Homo sapiens: one gene and its partner. Changing the gene in region 1 together with any one later gene gives a genetic interaction. Each region holds a gene or a part of one and is shown in the gene's direction. Other genes may lie near its edges.

Region 1 (3,500 bases):
TCTCTGTATGTATGGCATATGTGGGTAGTCATATATCAAATATGACTTGACTGGGATGATTGGGAAAATGGTAGTTTCATTAATAGAAATGTTTAAGAAAAATAAAAGATAGACTTAATATGAAAATAATTTGAACGTTCTGCATAGTGAGTTTTGAGATACCTGTAGGATTTCCAGAGAGAACAAAGAAGTTGAAAATTTAGAATTGAGTATATGCTCTCCTCCTGCAGGAGACCATAGCTGTGGCCATGAGAGATATTGTGCTGAAACAGATCTTCAGTTCTTTTGGTTAGTTAGGTGTTTAGAAATATGTAAAAATAGGATTTTAGACAAATCAATTTTGCCATCTATAAAAAAGGAGTTTTTAAGTTACATTTTTCTATGTGGATTAAGGTTTGCATGTTTTAAACTTTGGAGTCATTTGGGAATAACAGGTTAAATGTACTATGCTCATTACATGCCATGTAAGTAAATATAAAATGTTGAAAGTAACAGACTTTTACAGCTCTTTTACACTGTATTTTAGACTTGAATCTTTTCCTTTTTTAAAGCAAGTATGCTTTCATTACATTCATATTTTATGAGTCTATTCCATATTTAAAAGCAGCTCACTTCAATCATAACTCTAACCTTTCACTTCTCAAAGATTATTGGATTAGTGTAAAGTTTTGAATCTTTTAGATTGTGCATTTGATTTCAAAACTATGAACTTAAAGCCTCAAAGTGATTATTTTCTCATTTGTGCATTGATATATATATATATATTTGTGGTGAGGGTGATGGTAGATGGGAACAATGACTTGGGTTTTATCTACAAAGAAGTGACCTACAGAATCACATTTTAATTTGGCATGTGAGAATTGATTCTTTTTCATAGTTAATTGTGAAATGAATATGTTGAAATAAGTTTGAAAAAACCCTTAGATTACTGTATTTGAATGTACAGTAATTCCCCTTTGTCTGTGGGTGATATGTTCCAAGACTCCTCGTGTGTAAAACCACAGAGTACCAAACCCTACATATACTATGCTTTTTCCTATACAGTCACACCTGTGATAAAGTTTCACTTATAAATTAGACACAGTAAGAGCTAAACAACAATGTCTAATAATAAAATGAAATAATTATAACAATATACTATAATAAAAGTTATGTGAATGGTCCCTGTCTTTCTCTGTCAAATATCTTTTTGTATTTACCCTTCTTGGGATGATAGGGGATGATAAAATGCCTACATGATGAGATCAAGTGTTGGAGCAGGATGGTGTGAGATTTTATCACACTACTCAGAACTGCAGGCAGTTTAAAACTTAGGAATTGTTTACTATTTCTGTAGTTTTCCATAATTTTGGACTGTGGTTGACTAGAGATAACTGAAATCGTAAAAATGAAACTGGATAAGGGGGAGCTACTATACATTTATTTCTATTTCTTCTAAAAAAAAAATTATATATATATATATATATTTAGACAAAAGCCAGAAATTTTCCTGTATGAGGAAGGTATCTATGATAAATAGAAAATATTAACCTATGCTTATTTTTTTCATTTTCTTTTGTTTTAAAACAGAAAAGCCTCCCAATAAAAGCAGTATGAGGATAGTAGTGGACTCAGAATCAAGGAAAAGAACCATTGGTTCTGGAGAGCCTGGAGTTCCTACAAAGAAGACTTGGTTTGATAAGTAAGGTGGCCAGGAAAATTGAGGAGTATAATTGTGCATTGATTTTCAGGATCATTTCTGTATTATTATGACAATATGGTTTGGTTTCTTCCAAAAATGTTACTCTGTTCTGTAAGCAATCCCCAAGTGTGAGTTTTCTAAAAATTGGCAAGTTAGTTGTCTGATGTTAGAAAAGCATTTTCTTACAGAAATGGTGTGGTAGTTCAGGGCATAATTTTTTCCTCTTATCATTTACCCTCCTCCAAAAAACCCACTCTTTAACTTAGACCTGTTGAATACTAGCTATATACAGGATAGTCATGAGCCTCTCATCATTAGAGGAAGGAGGTATAGATCAGACCTGTCAAGAGACTTTCATATGTAGGCAGTTCCTGCTAGGTAGGAGCTAGAAAGGGCTTTTGTGGGGGTTGGAGAGGCTGTCTAGGCATTGAATGGTCAAGAAAGAGCTTCAGATAAAGGGGTAAGGAATCAGAATGTTAAGATATGTGTGAGGTGATTCATTTATAAATAAATCTGTGAAGAGAGACTAGGATCACTTTTAGAGCTTTAACATCTACTTAATAATGGATAGTTTCTAGTTGTTTGTGATTAATTCTGTGATTTAATGCAGAGTAACCTCTCTAGGCCACAGTTTTGTCCTTTCTTCAAGTGTCAAAATGTATTCTTTATAGTTCCAACAATTCTTTTTTTCTTTTTTTAAATAAAGCGGGAAAGAGGTTGAGACTGTCATCAAAGAAAATAAAATTTAAAATCAAATTTAAAACATAAAGTTTTAAGATAGGATATTTTTTAGTAAGCTGACTTTTACAGAATCAGAATAAAGGTTATATATGCAAATTGACTAAAAGAGGATATTGAGACTTTTCCTGATAGGAATGTTAAGTAGAGGTGGATCAGAAGTGGAAAGTAACAAATGATATGGCAGAACCCTTCTCAGTTGGCTTCCATGAAAGATACTAACAGTGTTCATTTGGAAACTTCATTGTTGGAAGAAAATTTAAATTTCCTTTATCAACCAGTAATTTCAGTTTGGGGGAAAATTGAACTTAATTGGATATCTATTTTGTTAAACTTTATTCCCTTGTATTTGGTTAGGGTCAGGATTTATAAATGTATTGACTAACTTGAATTTTGTTTGCAGACCAAATTTTAATAGAACAAACAGCCCAGGCTTTCAGAAGAAGGTTCAATTTGGAAATGAAAATACCAAGCTTGAACTTAGAAAAGTTCCTCCAGAATTAAATAATATCAGCAAACTTAATGAACATTTTAGTCGATTTGGAACCTTGGTTAACTTACAGGTAAGAGCCATGAAATGGTTTTGTTATCTCTTCTTTCTGTTTAGGGAACTTAATGTAATAAGAAAACTACCTTTATAAATAAATATTTTAAGGCTGGGCATGGTGGTTCACGCCTGTAATCCCAGCACTTTGGGAGGCCAAGGCGGGCGGATCACCTGAGGTGAGGAATTCGAGACTAGCCTGGCCAACCTGGTGAAACCCCATCTCTACTAAAAATACAAAAATTAGCTCGGTGTGGTGGCAGGCACCTGTAATCCCAGCTACTCGGGAGGTTGAGGCAGGAGAATTGCTTGAATCTGGGAGGCTAAGGTTGCAGCGAGCCGAGATTGCGCCACTGCACTCCAGCCTGGGTGACAAGAGCAAAACTCTGTCTCAAAAAAAAAAAAAAAAAATTGTTATTCTGAATTGGGAAAATTGGACATGAAATGGAACTCTACCTTTTAGGAAAAAATACAATTTTTAGTGTTTCAATTGATCATATTATCATAAACTTTTTACCTAATAAAGGTTGTCATAAA
Region 2 (3,500 bases), on another chromosome or scaffold:
GGGTTCCAGTAGTTCCCCAGGGACTCTGGCAGCCAGAGAGAAATATAGGAATGGCTAGATGTAGAGTTCCCTGGAAGCAATGGACCTCAGTGACACCTTCACTCAGTTTGCCTCTTCTGCCTCTCTTGGTTGAGCCATAGTCAGCTTCAGAAACCTCACAGCCGGGCTGGGTGCAGTGGCTCACGCCTGTAATCCCAGCACTTTGGGAGGCCAAGGCGGGCGGATCACGAGGTCAGGAGATTGAGACCAGCCTGACCAATGTGGTGAAACCCAGTCTCTACTAAAAATATCAAATTAGCTGGGCATGGTGACGTGCGCCTGTAATCCCAGCTTCTTGGGAGGCTGAGGAAGGAGAATATCTTAAACCCAGGAGGCAGAGGTTGCAGTGAGCTGAGATTGCGCCACTGCACTCCAGCGTGGGCAACAGAGTGAAACTCCGCCTCAAAAAAAAAAAAAAAAAACTCATGGCCTACCCTGCTCTCATCTCCAGCTACTCAGCATAGAGCGACTAAACCTTTATGCTGCTTCCCTGCGAGTATGCTTCCTACTGTTTGAGAGCATGCGAGAGCACCTCAAGTTCCAAATGGAGGTGAGTTTCTTGATGTGGAAAGAAAAGGGGGAAAAAAAATAGGGAGATATATGGCATCTTCAGTGGGGCCAGCTCTATCATGCTACAGGGGTAGGATTTAGGGACTTCCTATAGGAGAGTCCTTTTAGCCTCCAGAGTTCGGTTCAATCAACTGGCCTCTTTTGTGGAAAAGTTAAAAGGAGACCAAAGGAAACTGGCTGACCCCAAATATGAGAACTGCCAGGTAACCTTACCATGAATAGGGACAGCTCTTCTGCCCAGCAGTTACTCTGCAACACAGGTAGGTAAGTCAAGCCAGCATTGTCACTAAATTGCTAAAAGGAACTCTAAATAGGACCAGGTCATGTTCACATAGCACAAAAGGGCAAGAGGCAACTTGTCTGGGACCAGGTATGTGGTAGAGAGCCAGGCCTTATCCCCCAACATGGAGGCCAAAGAAGAGATATATTTAGGGGATGGAATACCTTTGGGTGTCTCTTAATACATGCCTCTAGGCTGGGCTTCTGCATCCTGTTTAATGTTTTTCCTGTCTAATTTTTTCTCTTCCTATCTTGAATCCTTTCCCCACCCAAATGGCAATTACTGGGTTATTGCCAGATGTACATCAAAAAGCTTATGGAGATCATCACTGTGGAGAACCCCAAGATGCCTTATGAGATGAAGGAGATGGCACTGGAGGCCATTGTGCAGCTCTGGCGCATCCCCAGCTTTGTCACAGAGCTCTACATCAACTATGATTGTGACTACTACTGTTCCAACCTCTTTGAGGAACTCACAAAGCTGCTGTCCAAGGTGCTGAGCACTATAACTGGCTTCTAGGAAAAAACGCATTATAAAGGAAATCTCCCTGGTGGTAGTGAGGATGTTACATACAGAGAGGGGAACACTTGAGAGCTGGGAAATAGAAGAAAGGCATTTTCTTTTCTTTTCTTTTTTTTTTTTTTTTTTTTTTTTGAGATGGAGTCTCACTCTGTTGCCCAGGCTGGAGTGCAGTGGCGCGATCTCGGCTCACTGCAAGCTCCACCTCCCGGGTTCACACCATTCTCCTGCCTCAGCCTCCCGAGTAGCTGGGACTACAGGTGCCCACCACCACGCCCGGCTAATTTTTTGTATTTTTAGCAGAGACGGGGTTTCACCATGTTAGCCAGGATGGTCTCGATCTCCTGACCTTGTGATCCACCCGCCTCGGCCTCCCAAAGTGCTGGGATTACAGGCATGAGCCACCACGCCCGGCCAGAAAGACGTTTTCTAAGGGCAATGTACAAGTTAGAAGAAGTTTTGGAAATTTTAGAAAATGATCAAAGTGTAAAGTGTTCTCCTAACTACAAGTCCAATTGATCTGTTTACTTTCCAGAATGCCTTCCCTGTGTCTGGTCAACTCTATACAACACACCTACTATCTCTTGATGCCCTATTGACAGTGATTGACAGCACCGAGGCCCACTGCCAGGCTAAAGTCCTCAACAGCCTCACCCAGCAAGAGAAGAAGGAGACAGCCAGACCAAGCTGTGAGATAGTAGATGGCACCCGAGAAGCTAGCAATAGTGAGAGGCATTTCTTTCTTTGATGAACCCAGTGTTCTATGCTTATCCCTTCTCTACTCTCTGAGTCGTTTTTCCTGTCCCCATATCACTTCCCCTGGGATGCTCCCAATTCTGTTTCTGGGCTTTGGCAGTTTAAATCACAGGCCAGTCAGGCAGATTAGTAGAACTCATAGCCTTCTCCCTTTTTCCTCCTCCCCACTTTGGTTTTTTACAGAATTATTATTTCTTTATGGCAAGAGAAGAGAACAGAGATTAAAGAATATAGGATTTCTGTCTCTGAAAGCTCCAGGTCCCACCATCCCTCATCCCCAATATCTGCCTCCACTCTAATTAGTCCTCTCTAGCTCCCCCTTGAAATTTGAGGTTGCAGAAGATCAGGGAAAGTGACTGGGTAATCTCTTCATTAAATTAGAGAATCTAATGCTTGGCTGGGACAGGGACTACTTATTTTGGCTTGGGTTTGTCCTGCTCAGGGCTGGCGCCCTGTGCAGGAACCATGCAGGTCTTCTGGGCTTGGGATTTGATCTATCCTGCAGCTCTGCTTGGCTTCATACCCTATAAGTCTTCACGTATCTTCTTCTCTCTTACCAGCTGAGAGAACTGCCAGCGATGGGAAAGCTGTAGGCATGGCCTCAGACATCCCAGGCCTGCATCTGCCAGGTGGAGGGCGGCTGCCACCAGAACATGGGAAATCAGGATGCAGTGATCTGGAGGAAGCTGTTGACTCTGGGGGTGGGTACTGGGTGTCCATGACCCTAAGCTCCTCACCTGGAGGGCCTGGTGAAGAGCAGAGGGAGGGAGCAGACACCTAGGATAGTAACTAAGCAAGCCTTGGTAGCCCGCCTCGCCTTCAGACTCAGAGAGAGGGAAGCAAACATATGGACCCTCAGTTGATAGGACTTCCAGGGAAGTGGAAGACTGGTGAGGACAAGATTTCTGAGGCTCCTTCTTGAAACTGGGGAGTATATTGGTGACCTTCCAAAAGTCCTTATCTGGGTAAAAAAAGGTGTTACAGATATTTCCCCCCTCTTCTTCCTACTCCTAGCTGACAAAAAGTTTGCCCGGAAGCCACCCCGATTTTCCTGTCTCCTGCCAGATCCACGGGAACTAATTGAAATTAAAAACAAAAAGAAGGTACATACATGTATTCCCCAGCCTCTGTCCACCTCTGTCTGGGTGTCCAGTGTTGTAGGGTTTCCATCTCAGAAGATGAAGGAGAGTCTAGCACCTCATTGTACAGCTTCCTGAGGCCAGTCTTTGGGCTTGTTGGGACTTCAGCAACTCCCATTTGAAGCCCTTCCCTTACTCCTAAGCTATGTAGTTGAGCATACCCTATGTATGCCCCTGCGCAAATGCTGTACCAGTTG

What was found. Genes that interact genetically often act in the same process or in processes that back each other up.
Region 2: changes in RBM26 (region 1) and GBF1 together harm fitness more than expected from each alone (negative genetic interaction), as found in Homo sapiens cells (one study listed by BioGRID).

Annotation. Positions count from the first base shown.
Region 1 is NC_000013.11:79,357,756-79,361,255, reverse strand, and holds part of RBM26 (RNA-binding protein 26), read left to right. Parts: intron 1-1,569; coding exon 1,570-1,681; intron 1,682-2,822; coding exon 2,823-2,982; intron 2,983-3,500. UniProt on the Homo sapiens protein: May be involved in the turnover of nuclear polyadenylated (pA+) RNA.
Region 2 is NC_000010.11:102,360,532-102,364,031, forward strand, and holds part of GBF1 (Golgi-specific brefeldin A-resistance guanine nucleotide exchange factor 1), read left to right. Parts: intron 1-490; coding exon 491-589; intron 590-1,186; coding exon 1,187-1,381; intron 1,382-1,943; coding exon 1,944-2,133; intron 2,134-2,724; coding exon 2,725-2,865; intron 2,866-3,178; coding exon 3,179-3,267; intron 3,268-3,500. UniProt on the Homo sapiens protein: Guanine-nucleotide exchange factor (GEF) for members of the Arf family of small GTPases involved in trafficking in the early secretory pathway; its GEF activity initiates the coating of nascent vesicles via the localized generation of activated ARFs through replacement of GDP with GTP.